Regions from separate parts of the Homo sapiens genome. Here region 2 is linked to region 1. Evidence: fine-mapped expression QTL. Tissue or cell type: breast. Region 1 holds a variant in brackets; the other region holds the start of a gene. All regions are shown on one strand. Distances are from middle to middle.

Region 1 (8,085 bases):
CAGGATAGGTAGGAAGGAAACCTTAGACTGTGTGAATCTATTCTTTGCTAACAACAGACGCTACAAAAAGTTCTCATTTGAAATATCTTGTCAAGCTACAGACAACACGTTTTCTTGACATGATTTTAATAAAAAATACAGCTGACATAACAGATTACATGAAACTATACACAATGACATTCTCTGCATAGTAACCAACACTGATGTGTGTACTTGAATTTTTAAATGGATTATTTATAATCCTTTAAAGTGCAATTTATTGAAAGGTTTAAGCAAATCAGGATAAAGGATCTTTCTAATAAATGACTAACATTAAAGAGATGCTATATTGATATATTTAGATAAATCTTTCAAAAATCATAATTGATTTCTATAGATGCCAAATTTACTTCTGTTGTAACAATGACCTGCCCCCCTCAAACCCCAAACTTAATTGCTGAGGATTAAGAAGATCCTCTAATTGGCAAGAGCTTTTTCTGATGTTAATATTTTTGTCTGTTTCAATACATCTAACTAAAAAGAACTATGGGTCTAGAGTAGTTGCTTTAGCAGCCCTGAGTTCTATAACCACAATGGTATTCCTGTTAGAACTTAAGAGAATGTTGTGAACGTTCCCCATTCTATTTGAGGAGAAAACAAAGAACTCAGTTGCTTTCTGATTTAGCAAAGTAACTATGCTTTGGGCTATAGTGTTAATGTCTAAGATAAAGGTAGCAAAAATTGGAGTTATCTAAGAATCAGAAAATGCTTTAGAGAAATGAACTGTAAGAGGAATGTTTCTAGGAGCTGTCTGATGGGGTAGAAGGGATTGCAACACAAAGGCCATTTACTGCTGTGATTGAATATTGTCATTGTTTTTCTGTCTATTTCCTTTAGTTGGTGAAAATATTTCAATATGCTGCTGTCCCAAAAGCCTGGCCATTAGAGGATAAACAAGACTCCTTTACAGGGTTAATAAAGGAGCAAGATCTTAAGGGAGCAATGCCAGCCTAACTTTATTCTGCTTAAAGAATTATTTCTCTCGAAAAGCTGCTTACATGAGCATCTGCAAAATAGTACTGTTTGTGGCTGTACTGGCTCAGCAATTACTTTCCCAGGAAGAGGGTAGTTTGGGGGGTAGGGGTGAGTAGGAATAAAAAAGAACTTTTCCCTCCAAGTGTAAACAGGAAGCTTCAGCCGATCTTCGGAGCACTGTGATCACAGGTTTTGGCTTTCCTCAAAGTTCCTTTTTGGAAATTCTGGATGGAGCTGAGCAAGGCCCCTCGGCTCATGCCATTCACAGCCTGAGACGAGAGCTGGGCAGGTGCCTCGGTGCTCGCAGGAGGCAAGGGAGCTGCTGGTGGTGGTGGAGGTGGAGGAGGTGGAGGTAATGCAGATATCCCTGTGGAGGAAAAGGGGGACAATCAGTATTCACCTCCACAGCTGCCCTGCACACACGCTGCTGCTCAGTCCTGAGCACAACGGACTGGTGAGAGTCCACATGTTTTTCTCAGAGGGACCAACATACCTAGTACTGTATGAGTTCTTAAAATACTAAAGAAAGCTAGAAGCATCAAAGGGGAATTAAAAGTTGCCATGTTTCTCAAACAATAGTCATGTTAAAGGCTGTTGGAACAAATAATTACAGATTACATGAAACCACATATGGTGACATTCTCTGCATAGATGAGGCTCTGACCCCATTTGCAAAGTAATAGTCCCCAAAGAAGAGTTCCATCTATCAGTTACTTTAGCCAGGTCCCAGGAAGCTCTGTCTGCTTCTGAGCTAGCAATTAAAGATAGACATCTGCATGATGGAGTTGGGCTTCCTGAATGTCAGTTATTCATAAGGGGTGAACAGTTCTTTCGCTGCTCCAACATACACAATGTTTGAAGGATGTGATCTTATGTAAAATGACAGACCACTCAGGATTCTCAGCAAGGAATCAGTGCCTCCTGGGTTATGCATTTCCCAGAGGAGTCTGTCTCGAATAATAATTTCCTATTAGGTTGCATTAAAGAAATATAAAATGCTAATAACTGTTAGCAATGCAAAGCAGGGGGCAGAGGGGTCTCTCTGCCATGGTATTCTTACAGAGAAATCCTTCTCAAGTACTGTTCTCTCCATTGTGGCCCAACCAAGGAACAGGACATAACTGCACTAAATGTCTTTGACGAAGCATCAGGAGAAACTAGAATGTCGTGCTGTACCGCAGTGGGCAAGGAGAGGGAAACTGGGCAGGTGTCTAAAACTTCCCTCAGCTTCCAGGCACATGGACATTTGCAACTCGAATTTTATATTTTAGAATCAATGAATGGTTCTCTCAGGACAGAATAAACACCCGAGTTCAGAAAAAGCCTTGCCTTAAAGAATGTTCCTGTGCCACAGTTAGTTGCCTCGTCTCCTGTGACCTTGCAGCTCTCTGAGACTCTGTCAGATGCTGTCTCTGTCCCTCCCAGGGCTACTCCAGGGAGACATTCTGCCAGGTGGTTTCCCCTACACTGCTACTGAGTTGTGATAAGTAACAGGTAAAGCTACCCTACTTAAGTTTGTATGGACGACTGGCTCAGAATCACCAACACAATACTCAGGTAAGTACATCCTTTTCACCAAGTGTGACAGGTATGGGTTAAAGTCTTACAATAGAAAATCACTTACCTTTCTTTACATCTTTTACTCAAACCTAAGGCAGCTGAAATTAAAGAATCACACAAATACACACGCTCATGCTCTGCAATCTTGGAATGCTCAAAGATAGCAATACAAATAAAGACTAAATACAGACAAATGACCAACATGTTCATTGGTTCTACACAATAACAACTGATGAATGAAATTGTTATGTTTTATGCTAAGGTGGATTGTGGGAAAATGTTCCTGGCTTTATGTCACCAGGTTACAGAGATAAAAAGGACTTTAAACCTGAAGTAACTGTTGAAGTGGGAAAACGGAGAATAAGCATGTGTGATGAGCATTCCTCTGAAGAGGACTTCTGGAGAGCAACCAGTGAAATACCAGGAGGAGGGGAGACCTCTGCTGAAGGTTTTTGGAACTGAGTCTCTTGACTGCAACACCAAGTGGGCCCGAAGGAGTGAGCTCTGCCCACTTGGGGGTAAGTAGGTGCCAGTGCCCTTCCCCAGCACCCTCCCACCCAATAGCCAGAAAAGGGCAGTGGAATCTGGACTTGATATTCAGGGCCACGTAGTGTAACAGAAGGAGCTCCAGGGTTTCTGCCTCCCAGGTTTGTGCTTTGACCCCCGGCAGAAGAATCACTGTGCAGTTAAGGACAGGCTCTCGGCTGCGGCGGTACTTGGGAGTTCTACTAAAGGCTCAGCACTGGCCATCTAGAGACTGACTAGCCCTCCAGGCAAGGATTTTGGGGGGCTGGAGACGGGCCTCAGGGCTGGGCTGAGGGGTAGGGGCTGCCATCTTGGCACAGAACAAAACTGCTTGGCCTCACAGAGAACCAACCCTTGGTTTTGGCGTCATTACCAGGCCCTCAAAATTAGAAGTGCAAATGCACCACCGCAGAGTTTGGGAGTTGAGGGTGGGGTTCAGTACATGGATTTTCCACTGTCCAAGTAAATGGACATGGATTTTCCACTGTCACTTTAAATGAGTCTCTTTGAAAATGTAGGTGGTGTCAATAAATACACTGTCCA[A/G]AGGGCTCCAGGGCTCCAGTAAAGCAGATGGAACGAAAGGACAGGCAGCAGGATCTCCCTGATGTGGCCTCAGCAGGCTGGAGCAGTCCGGTGGGGCTTGATGTCCCAGCAAGTCCACTTTTCCTCACTGGGCCTACAACAACCATGGTGGCTCTTATGTACAACCAGGGCAAGGAAGGCCAGACCCAGCTTGCCAGTTTGGAACACTCTGGAGGGGAGAGGAGGTCTAGGGGTCAGAAGGTGGAAACTGGAGGAGGCAGGAACACAGACCTGGGACTCGGTCTCACTCAGTCTGCCCCATTGATTGTTTTTGGCTTTTCCTTTTGGCCCTTTCCATGGTCCACAAGCTTCCTGAAAGGTCCGTTGGGGCTTCAGCTACAACACATGGCTAACAATGGAGGAAGAGGGGGCAGGGGCAACAAGGGCCAAATGAAAGTTACCATTTGGCCTGTGACAAACCTGGGAACAACTGCCTGCTGCCTGCGCGCTCTCCACCCCTCAGATGTGAATGAGGCCTTCCTGCCAAGAGACCTCCAATACCCTTATCTCCAGGCCACATATGAGAGCAGACCGATTCCATGTTAGACTTATGATACCTGAATTTGCACCCAGGAAGGGGGATGCTGCAAACAGCTTACCTTCAGTTACGACCAGGTCAGTCCCGATTTCTCCCATCTCACTTTCTCTTAGACAAAATCCCTGAGAGCCAACTACTTACTCTACCCACCCCAAAATCTTCTCCACCAAACCACACGGGAACCTGGCAGTCCAGCAGAGGCCCTGTCAGAGGGCAGAGAATGCTGCAGGGAGAGCGTAGGTCAGATCTAGGGAGGAATGCCAGGCCAGAAACCCCCTTGACAGCCTTGTGGACAGGATGTCTGAGGGTCCCTCCCTCCAGTTCCTTTTTTTCTGAGATGGAGTCTCGCTCTGTTGCCCAGGCTGGAGTGCAGTGGCGCGATCTCGGCTCACTGCAAGCTCCGCCTCCCGGGTTCAAGTGATTCTCTGCCTCAGCCTCCCGAGTAGCTGGGATTACAGGCGCGTGGTACCATGCCCACCTAATTTTTGTATTTTTAGTACAGATGGGGTTTCACCATGTTGGCCAGGTTGGTCTTGAACTCCTGATCCTTGTGATCCGCCCGCCTCAGCCTCCCAAAGTGCTGAGATTATAGATGTGAGCCACTGCGCCTGGCTCCCTTCCCCACCGACTCTTAGGCCCATGTTAGCAGCCAGCAGTGGGTAATCTACAGTCTCTCTAATTCTGAGCTCCTTTGTGGTCACATACAGGAAGGGAGGCCAAGTGGCCATGAGACCACACTAGGGTAACACCAGACTTACCAGCCACCCTCAGGAGAGAACCGAAGCAGGCAAGCCCCCAGCTCTCGGGAGAACCACCTTCTCCTTTGGCTTCAGGCAGGTGAGGAGGCTGTACTCCTGTCACAGCTCGAGAATTATAAAGGATGCTTACAAAAGAACTGTTTTTCCCTACCGTCAGTTATAAAAGCCAGTAAGTTGTCTCCCTGTAACTAAGAGCTCAAGTGCCTAACACTCTTTCCTCTTCATCAGAGTAACTAGGAATCAACATTTTTGCAGCAACGGGACTTTGAGAGTTATGGTTTCCAAAATTAAAATATACCAAAATGCCATGCAGTTGATTTGCAGGTTTTAGAGCTGTATTTTAAAACTGAAATCAGAGTGAAAATGAAGATTTTGAAGGTCATGATGAAAATGAAATGAATATAGATGAAGTCACTGGGTGCTTTTTAAAGATGCTGTATTTCATTTAAATATTCAGATAAGGAAATAGTCTCAAATCTGCTTTCCCACTTGTTCATCACTTCAGCAATCGAGACACTTTGGGTCCTATTTCACACACAGAAACAGAGCATCTTTAAAGTCTGAGAAATCAGCATAGTTTACTTTACCGAAAATTCACGTTCAAAATGGTGCATGCTCTACTGAAAACAGCAAAGAGAGAGAGAGAAAGGGGGGACACAAGTCATTATTCAGATTTTAGTGTCATTTAATCAAATAGTAACAGACAGTAAAATATTAGTCTGAATCACAAGCTGATTATTCTCACTTCGAAACTAGGATATACTCAAATTAACCACAGCACTGGTTTGTAAACACGATTGTGAGCCTTTTAAAACATGGCAAACGTATTTATAGAATAACCAATGAGTCGCTTTTTGAGCCACCTAATGAGTCACTTTCTTCATGTTCTTTGTCCTCTGAGCCAGTTAGATACTATTTTTATTTATTTACAAGCATGACGCTCACTTCAGAAAAGCCATGAAGGTTTTACCTCTGAAGAGCAGAATGGATATGAGGAGTGTGCTTAGTTCTATTATTAAACAAGGACAGTTGATCAAGATGGGAGAAAAATGAAAACCCATAACTTTTTTCCAAGCAAGTCTTCTAGAGTCTACAATAGATTTGTCTCTTTAAAGTTGGGAGGAGTGTGAGCAGGCCTAAGGCCAGAGATCCTGGGCAAGCATCCTCAAGGCGGAAGCACTGGGCCCCTCCCTGAGGCCCTGTGAGCCCCTCCCTAGAGGCTGAATTGGGCAGTGAAACTTACTTAAGGCCATAAAGCCGTTTTAAAAAGGAAAGCAAGGCAAATGTTTTTCTTGTCTTCTTTTAAACTGACTAGATCCCCAGCTAAATGTGAAGGATCATGCTTTGGTAAATCTCAGAGTTCCTAATGAACCAACTCTGCCCCACAGCCTTTTCCTGGAAAGGGGCTGGGAAACGGAAAAGAGGCCCTCCAGCCTTCTCAGTACCATTGTTCCCCAAGGCTAGCCAGAGAAACTTGAATCCCTCCTTCTCCAAGGTGGGTCACAGAAACAGAACCCCTTTTCCCCAAAGCAAGCCATCATACCTAAAAATATTACTCTCCCTCCACCTTTCTGTGTAAAAACTGTCCATAAAGAAATAACTTGGCTGGGTGTGGTGGCTCACGCCTGTAATCCCAGCACTTTGGGAGGCCAAGGCGGGCGGATCACCTGAGGCCAGAAGTTCGAGACCAGCCTGGCCAACATGGCGAAACCCTGTGTCTACTAAAACTACAAAAAAGTAGCTGGGCATGGTGGTGGGCGCCTGTAATCCCAGCTACCTGGGAGGCTGAGGCAGGAGAATTACTTGAACCCAGGAGGCAGAGGCTGCAGTGAGCCAAGATCGAGCCATTGCACTCCAGCCAGGGCAACAAGAGTGAAACTCCATCTCAAAAAAGAAAAGAAATCACCTGACCTACCTTGTCTGACTATAGGTTGTAAGACCCCCATTCCAGAGAGAGTCCTGCCCATACCCAGAAGGAAGGAATGCTGCTCAGAGAGGCTGAGAAGAATCTAGACAGACAGACTTGCTGGGTTTCCCCACTCAGCCTATTAGCATTAGATCATAGCCTTTTCTTCCAATCATATTTCCACACAGCTGTCCATACTTTGTTGAACCTAAGCATAAAAATGGACAATTTTCCCTGTACCTTTGGGTCTTCATTCTGAAGGCTCCTGTGTATACATATTAAATAAACTTGTATGCCTTTTCTCTTATTAAATAAACTTGTATGCCTTTTCTCTTATTCATCTGTTTTGCGAGTTGAATTTTAAGCAGACCTTCAGAGGGCGGGCTCCCACACCTCTTCCTCTGCAGATTTGAAACTTCCCTTTCTCTCCACTCATTCTTGCAAACTGGGTTTTCTACAAACTGCCAGCTCTCTCACCTCAAAATTATTGGTTAAAACATAAACTACAAGCAAGAACAGCTAGAATTATCTGATTGCAAGACATTCGTAGTTTATACCTGATAGTGCTTTACCGCTTATAAAGCCTCGCCATGTATGCCATCTATCTAATAAAGAGCGAGACGTCTTTTAAAAGCCTCAAAGAACAGAAATTATTTGTCCAAGGTCATAGCGGGAATGTGGCAGAGCTAGGACTCAAGCCCTGGTTTACTGACTCAACATTCAGGGTTCTTTTCACACCAGCCAACAACAGTATTTAAGAGCACGGGCCCTGCAGCGCACCCTGAAGAAAGCAGGCACTCAATACATCAATGGGGTAAATGAACAAATACAGAACAAGTTACACTCCTGGCTCTAGCACCGCCCTAACTTGTGTGACCTCGGTCAAAGTCTCTTAATCCTACTAGAGTGTCAGTTTCAACTGTAAAATGGACCTAAGCTGGAGTCCACTCACACTGGATAAGAAGGTATTCACGATGATTAACTGAAACAAGTGACCATAAAGCAACAGTGCCTGGCACAAAATAAGTGCTTCAAATATATTACATATAATTATTTTAAATAACAATTTAGGGTCCTCTGCTTACTCAGCTTTCCCAAAATACTCTTACAAACCCATTTTTTAAAAAAAGGGCTGGGTGTGGGTGGCTCATGCCTGTAATCCCACTGTTATGGGAGGCTAAGGCGGGCAGATCACTTGAGCC
Region 2 (8,103 bases), 180 kb after region 1:
CACTTAGGATTTGGTGCTGCCCATCTCTCAAGGGTCATCTTCTTCTATCACCTGCCTATTGCCTGCCCTCCATCCCTTCCAATAATGATCTGCAACCCCCAGACATGCCGTGCTCTCCCACACCTCCGGGACTTTGACACACCTGCTCCTCTCTCCCCGGCACGCCTATTCTCCCTCTCGCCTGGCGAGCTCCAGCCCATCCTAAAAGTCTTAGCTATTAAAGCACTGCCGCTCTCTGTAAATGCTCCTGACAGTTCAGTTTTGCAGCTCAACAACCTGGGTTCAAATCTCTGCTCTGCCATTGACCACTGTGACTCTGCTCTGGTCACATGCTTGCCATGTGACTGTAGCAAGTGACCTAACCTCTTAGAATTCTACCTCAGTGTGGGGATGAAATGGGATGATGCAAGGAAACTGTTCAAAGCAGTGACAGGCAGATACTAAGCATTCACTCTGCACTGCTGGGATCTTGCCTGACTTCACAGGCAGAGTTAGGCAGCCCTGCCATACCTCCACCACCCTGCATGGCCACTGCTCAGGCCTATTGAGATGCCTGAGTAGTCTCTGGGCAGGGTCTGCATTGCCATCTTTATACTCTCAGAATCCAGTCCCATCCCCAGACTTCATCATATGTAACGTATGAATCCTTTTCTGGGTATATCACAAGGCAAACACCCAATGCCAACAGCCAAACAGCCACAGCTTCTGGAAAAATGCCTAAGAGCAAAGGCTGCTGTTAATATATTACTTAAAAAGAAGAGGATCCCAACCTGCAGCAGTGTAAGAACCTCTGCCCACACCTCCTGAGTGCTGTCCTGCTCCCCTGAATCAGCAGTTTCCTTGGTACAGCACCAGAGAGCCGCACAGAAGCTCATGACAGACCCCAAACCCATCCAGCCACAGGCAGCAACACCCCAAGTGGCCTCTAGGATTGGGAAGCGTCAAATAGGATCCAGAGGGTTTCTGAGGGTCCGGTTTAGGAGAATACTTTGATCTTCTTGGAAGAGGCAACTACATGCAAGGTCAGAAAGGACTTTAATGTTGTGAAAATCATATCCAGTTTCAGTTTCTCAACTGTGGCACAAGTGACACTGGAGGCCATATAATTCTTTGTTGTGGCACCGTCCTGTGCATCGTAGGACGTTTAGCAGCATCCCTGGCCTCTACCCACTTGATGTTACCTACAAGTTGTGACAACCAACAACAACAACAAAATTTCAAAATTATCCAGGTTTGGCCGGGCGCGGTGGCTCACATCTGCAATCCCAGCACTTTGGGAGGTAGAGGCGGGCAGATCACCTGAGGTCGGGAGTTCGAGACCAGCCTGACCAACATGGAGAAACCCCGTCTCTACTAAAAATACAAAATTAGCCAGGCGTGCTTGTGCATGCCTGTAATCCCAGCTACTCTGGAGGCTGAGGCAGGAGAATTGCTTGAACCCGGGAGGCGGAGGTTGCGGTGAGCCGAGATCGCGCTACTGCACTCCAGCCTGGGCGACAGAGCAAGACTCCGTCTCAAAAAAAAAAAAAAAAATTACCCAGGTTTGGTGGTGCACACCTGTAGCCCCAGTTACTTAGGAGGCTGAGGTAGCAGGATTGCTTGAGCCCAGGAGTTCAAAGTTACAGTGAGCTAAGATTGCTCCACTGCACTCCAGCATGGGTAACAGAGTGAGACCCTGTCCCTTAAAAAAAAAATTTTTTTAAGACTCAAATAGGAGAAATTTTTAAAGAATTTTTTTTCAACTTGCAGAACTAGCTTCCTGGCATCTTCCAAATATTTAGCTTTGATGGGGATGTCTTGCCTCTTTTCTTTTGAACACTCATCACGGTAATAATTGATCTAATCACCAAAATAACCAGGAGTTTCATAAAAAGTATGACATAGCATGCCAGGTGTGGTGGTGCACACCTGTAGTTCTAGCTACTTGGGAGGCTGAGGTGGGAGAATCACTTGAGCCCAAGAGTTCCAGGTCAGCCTGAGTAGGAAACACAGTGAGACTTCATCTCTAAAAAAAAAAATTTTTTTAAAGAATATGACATAGTGAAGCTGATTTCCAATCTTAGCTAGCCTACTAGGATAAACACTCATTCTTTATTTATTTATTTTATTTTTTGAGACTGGGTCTTACTTTTTCACCTAGGCTGGAGTGCAGTGGAGCAATCTCAGCTCACTGCAGCCTTGACCTCCCAGGCTCAAGCAATCCTCCCACCCCAGCCTCCCAAGTAGCCGGGACTACAGGTACGCAACACCACTCCCAGCTAATTTTTTTTTTTTTTTGGTAGAGATGGGGTTTCACCATGTTGCCCAGGCTAGTCTTGAACTCCTGGGTTCAGGTGATCCTCTTGCCTTGGCCTCTCAAAGTGCTGGCCACTTTGAGGTGTGAGCCCACCACACCGAGACAAAACATTCATGCTTGCCTTTCTTCCCTCCAAACCCAAAGATAATCTTTGAGTCTAACTTCTCGCCCCCAGGATAGACCTCACCCAACGCATACTGCAAACCAGGATCACCTCTAAGGACAATTTTTTTCTCATATCAAGTTTCAGAATTACTTCCCAGTTGCACAAACTGCATTCCCATCTTTTACTCTAGGTTTGCAGATGCTCACAGAATCAAAGGTCACACATTTTAAAAGCTAAAAAAACCAGAAGGGCACTTCTGTCTCTAACTACAAAGACAATGGATAATTTGGAGTTGACGAAAGCCACAGAATGTGTCGAAAAGGCAAAATAATAAAAATAATAAAAAGATGAAAATAGAGAAAGTCTCATAGGCCTTTCTGAGCACACAAAATGGTTAATTTCTGTAGAGTCAGTGTGAGCCATTTATTAATTATTTTTTTCCAGTAATTCAAGGTAGTGGTCAACTACCACTCTTCATAATAACAGCTGCTGCTTTCTGAGTGCTTAAAACATGCTGGGCCCTGTGCATTATTTTATCTAAATATTGCCACTACCCTTTAAAGTGGGTACTATTACCAGAAGCTGAGAGGCCCTTGCTGGTCTGAGAAAAACAAATTAGTGCTAGAAACACAGGTGATTAATTTCTGTTATTTCTAATTTCCTATATTATAACAATGTTCTTGATAAGAATTTGTTGAAATTGGGTAAAAAGTCTAGTGGTTCGAGGTCGGGTTGGGGGGGCGGTTGGGGGAAGGGGGTGGTTCTGAGGCCAGACTCACTTCGTGTCTTGGGAAGGTACCACCTCTGGAAGCCTCATATTCCTGCTCTCAGGAATGGGCACAGCGGTGGTACCTACCTCAAGGGGCTGTTGGGGAAAGTATGGCAGGTAATTCTTTTAAGGGGCTTAGGACAGGGCCTGGCACACAAGATTTGCTTATTCTATGTCAGCTATTATTCATTATAAACTACTTTAAACTCTTAGCCAGGTGGAGCCACTAGGGATTTCTGAGCAGGCGGGAGCAGCGGGGAGGGGGGCGGCGAGATAAATGAGGGCCTCCAGGTCCCAGCTGGAGTAAGACCCCCACTTTATTTCCTCTTCCTAACCACCCAGCTCCTGGGGCATACAAAGGGCTCAAAATACATATTCTCTGCATGCACAGTATCTAGACCCTCTGGCATCCTCCTCTTCCCCCACTCCCCCATGCCTCACTCTGTCACCTGGCCTCGCTGTGGGCTCAGGGGCGCAAACCCTGCACGTGCACTGCCCTGCAGCCGGCGTTACACAATCCGCATTTCTAAGGCAGCCGTGAAACCTGTGTCGCTGTAGGCGGGGGACCGCAAGTTGCCGGCGGGTACCTGGCTGGACAGCATCCTGATTCAAGTGTTTCGACACGGAAGGGGCGCAAGGGCACGGGAGCCGGGGCAGGCTGGGGAAAGGGAAGCTGAAAGGCTGCTGGGGGAGGGGAGTAGCGGAGCGAGATCTTGGGGACGGCGCGGAGGCGGCGCGTGACACGGAGCAAGATGCTATCTGGGTGGGCGAGCTGCAGTCCTTCTCCAGGAAATGGGGGAAACAGGGCTGCAGGACCCCAAAATCCTCTCGGCACTGCGAGGGGCGCCTAAGGGCTGCTGCGGGCGCAGGGGGTGGGGAGGCGAAGTAGAAAGAGGGTGCAGGTCCCGACCCGTCCTCACTCTGTCCCCCGGCTTCAAGAGGCTGGCTGGACCCAGGAAATGGGGCGCCGGGTTTCGGGCATCTCAAACCTATCCAGGCAGCGGGAGGTGGGGGCAGCGCCCGCGCGGGGAGCGGAGTGGAAAGGCAAGTGCAGATCGCCGACTCTTTCCACTCGATGCGCCGCTGCAGGGAGACACTGGGGGAGAGGTCACGGGGCCATCAGGGCGCCCCATCCCCCTAGGAGCGCACCACCGCCCGCCCGCCCGCCTCCGCTCACCTGACCAGCCTCAACCGCCTGGGTCCCGCCGCCGGGCCCGGACCCCGGCCCTCGGTCTCTAGCCCCGGGCTGGGACCTGCCGCCGGGCTCCTACCCGCGCCGCTCCCAGCTCCGGCGCCCAGCCCAGCTGGACTCCTTAAAGGCGCAGCGTGCCGGTTCGCGTCCTCCGACAGAAAAGCCGCCCCGCCCCGACCCGGCGCCGCGCGCTGTCCCCCAGCGGCCGCGCTCTGTTTGGGGGCTCCGGGGCGCTTATCCCCAGTTCCTCCGCGCGCTGCCTCACAGCGTTAAACCCGGAGGGTACAGTTAGCGTCTCGCACAACCCAACGCCGGCAACTGTCTCCTAGCACCCGAAAGCCACGGCGAGAGCAGGATCGCCTACAGAGGTACCGGGGGCGGAGCCCGAGCGCCCGGTCCCGCCCCCGCCCCCGCCCCCGCCCCCGCCCCGCCCCGCCCCGGAACGCACACGGTGGCGGGGCGCGGGGAGGGCCTCTGAGCCCGCAGAGCCACACACAGTTCCACATCCCCGGCCCGAATTCTTCCCGGCACTGTTTCACTTACTGAGCACCTACTGTGTGCCTGGCGCGGCTGGGCATTAAACCCGCCAAAGTGACTCAGGCAGGATCTCTGGATCTCTGCCCCGAAGGGCATCAGAGAGAAAGGGACAGGCAGGGGTTCTCAGGCAGCAAAGCAACACTGCTTGACATCGGTTGTCTCACGTAATCCTATGAGGTAGGCACTGGGGTCGACTTCTTTTCTCAGAAGACACCGAGGCTCAGGGAGGTGAGGGGCTTGCCCTGGATAGTCCAGGAAATGGGAGAAATGGGGGCGCAGGAGCCCCCAAATCCTCTGGACACTGCGAGGGCTCCACCCCAAGGAACACCGTAGGCGCTCATGCTCCCGCCCTGGCTCTCGGGTGTTTGGAGACAGTTGCCGGCGTCGGGTTGTGCGGGACGTCAGACTGTAAGGACTGAACTGGGAATTCCAACCGAGGATCGTCTGACTCCAAAGCTATACGGGAGAAATGGGCACCTGGAAAGGCCTTCGGCCACCTCTGGTTAAACCCCTGCTATGGTCGTTTCTTTCTTTTAGGGACAGTTAAACCCCAGCTTGGCCTGGCTACTCTTCCGTGTTTTCCATGTCTCAGTTTAGCTGCCACTTCCTCCAGGAAGCCTTCAGTAAGACCCCTTTGGGCTCACACTGCACTGTGGGCTTCTTTCATCAAAACATGTATTCGTTCATTTAACAGATATTTACTACACCTGTTAGGGGCCTTAGTGGCACCCAGATCTTCCTGCTGCACTGAGTGCTTGGCCTGCCACTCCAGACGTCAAGGGGCCAGGGCTCAGCAAGACTCTCTTGGCCGTTTAAATCCCCCACAAAGGCAGCCTTTGGGCCTCAGCCTGCCAAGGCCTCCACGCTGGTGGAGCCTGGCTGAGTGGTGCAGGTCCTGGGTTTTAAGAATAGGACACAGTCAAGAAGTCCCGGAGAAGTGGCAAAGGGGCATCTCTGAAGCCACTAGTGATCCCCATGCCTGTAAACCCTGCTCTGCAGGGCAGCTGGAATTCATCCGGAGTTTGGGACAGTCCCCCTGGCTTGGGCTGGAGCATTTTCCTTTAAATTGTTGGCTGCCTTATCACTTAGACTTCAATGGCTGCATGTGATTCACTTCAGGGAATGGCCCCCGAGTTTCAGTGGCAATTTATTCACCAAACAGCGGGTTGCTCAGTCCCACCTCTCTGGCTTTATCTCTCCTTACGGCTGAAGCAGAACCTTTCCAAGCCAGCAGTCCACCAACATCCCCAGAGCAGGTCCACAGAGATAGCACAAAATGTGGGGATTAAATGTCCTTCAGTCACTACTGGCCACCTATTGGATTAGCATCTTGGACTCAGGAACATTCACCAAAACAGGAGTCCAGGGGGTGAATAAATAGACAATGAAATTGATGAATGACTTCCTGGAAGGCCCCAGCCTAGAAGCCATCAATACACCTGGTATAAAGTTTAAAACAATTGCTCCTTAGTCTTTTAATTTTCCCTCTCCAAAACCTTAAAAATGGGTAGTTCATCAGTTTGGTGGGTTTTTTATTTAACTCACAGCCTGTGACCCTGGGCGTCTCCAAGGGCCTGGAATTTCTATATCCCGAGGGTTTTTTTCCCTCAGAGTTTTATATTTAGAAACACCTTTTTGAGCCCCATGTGGGAGTCACATTCTGGGTGACTTATCTCCACTGGATGGCTGACAGGAGAGAAACCTTATTAGCTCCAGTTTTACAGTGAAGGAGGCAAGAGGAGATAAGGGAACTCACCTCCGGCCCCTCCCTGAGCCGGTGATACCCCTGAGTGCTGTCACTGAGGAATCCCACCTAGGTGGGAGACCAGGGAGCAGTCCCAGGGGCCTGGTACTTTCCAGATGGCACCTTTAGTCATCCCAAATAGAAACTCCTTATCAGTGGACAGGTCTCACCCTAGCATTAAGAAAGAGTTTTGAAACCTTTCCTCTGCCAGCAGTTGCAGCAGAACACTCCAGGATTCACTCTGCCATGAAGCCTGTACATGTCTCCTGGATGCAGCAGCACAGCTATCAGAGCTGAAGGATGCCATTATTTAATGCGCACTTACTACCTTCAGCCGCAGGGCATCAAATCACTTAGTCCTCACAACACATAGTGAAATATGCTCACCTGTGAGTTATACTAACCCACTTTACAGACACACCGAGGTACAGAGGGGTTAATGGACTCACTCAAGATCCCACAGCCAGCTTATGGCAGGGCCAGCGGTCAAAGGAGTTCACTCATTCATTTATGTAGCAAACATTACTGAGAACCTACTACATACTAGGTACTGTCTGGATGAACAGAGACACACTTCTTGCCCTCAAGGACTTAGAGTCTATTTATAATAATAAAATATTAGAAGCTATTTAATCAGGGAATCACACACAAGCTGTGAGGGAATCACACAAAAGCCATGTCAGCACATGGAAATGTGTGCAGGAGAAAAGCAAAAAACACAAGATACCATGTGTACACAGACACCAGCTGGGCAGCACCCCTGAGCTTATGAGTCATTCGTACCATCTATTCCCCAAGCATTTGCTGTGTGACAACTCTGAGCCAATCCCTGAGGCCTCTGCCCAATCTGGAACTCCAGTATCACTGCCTCCCAGCAGCCTTACCTGACTATCCAGGCAAAATTAATTTTTCCATCGTCCACACCCCTGTAGCACATTATACATGACGATATGTTTATTTATTTAGGCAACTCTCAACTCCACGGAGTTGTGAATTCCTTTTCCACTTCCATCTCCCCAGGGAAAAGCATGATGAGTAGCACAGAACAGGCAAATGTTAATTAGCTACCATGTGTTGAGCTTTTCCTGTGTTCCTCACCTTGTGCTCAGTGCTTTACAAGCATTATCTCATGGATTCCTCCCAACCACTCTGTTATTAGCCCTATTTTACAAATGAGGAACATTTTGAGGCTCAGAGAGTTTCTGAGCCTCAAATCTACCCAAATGTGTTAAATCACCTATCCAAATATCTTAGTCTGTGTGTGTGTGTGTTTTGAGAGAGTCTCACTCACTCTGTCGCCCAGGCTGGAGTGCAGCGGCACGATCACGGCTTACTGCAACTTCCACTTCCCCAGGTTCAAGCAATTCTCCTGCCTCAGCCTCCTGAGTAGCTGGGATTACAGGCATTTGCCACCACACCCAGCTAATTTTTGTATTTTTAGTAGAGACAAGATTTCCCC

The links. PIP is the estimated chance that this variant, and not a neighbour inherited with it, causes the effect.
Region 2: it holds the start of ABHD6, and the variant in region 1 is fine-mapped to the expression of ABHD6 in breast (GTEx, PIP 0.97).

The regions. Positions count from the first base shown.
Region 1 is chr3:58,418,048-58,426,132 of GRCh38, reverse strand. It overlaps PXK (PX domain containing serine/threonine kinase like), which reads right to left. Exons shown (of 18, transcript NM_017771.5): 18 at 6-1,381. The coding sequence ends at 1,173. Among named protein-coding and RNA genes, the nearest start is that of PDHB, 12 kb to the left of the region's middle. The variant A/G (reference allele first, on the strand shown) is at 3,643.
Region 2 is chr3:58,234,162-58,242,264 of GRCh38, reverse strand. ABHD6 (abhydrolase domain containing 6, acylglycerol lipase) reads right to left here and starts at 4,473. Exons shown (of 10, transcript NM_001320126.2): 1 at 4,349-4,473. RefSeq lists silencers at 4,232-4,721, 4,732-4,901 and an enhancer at 4,123-5,062.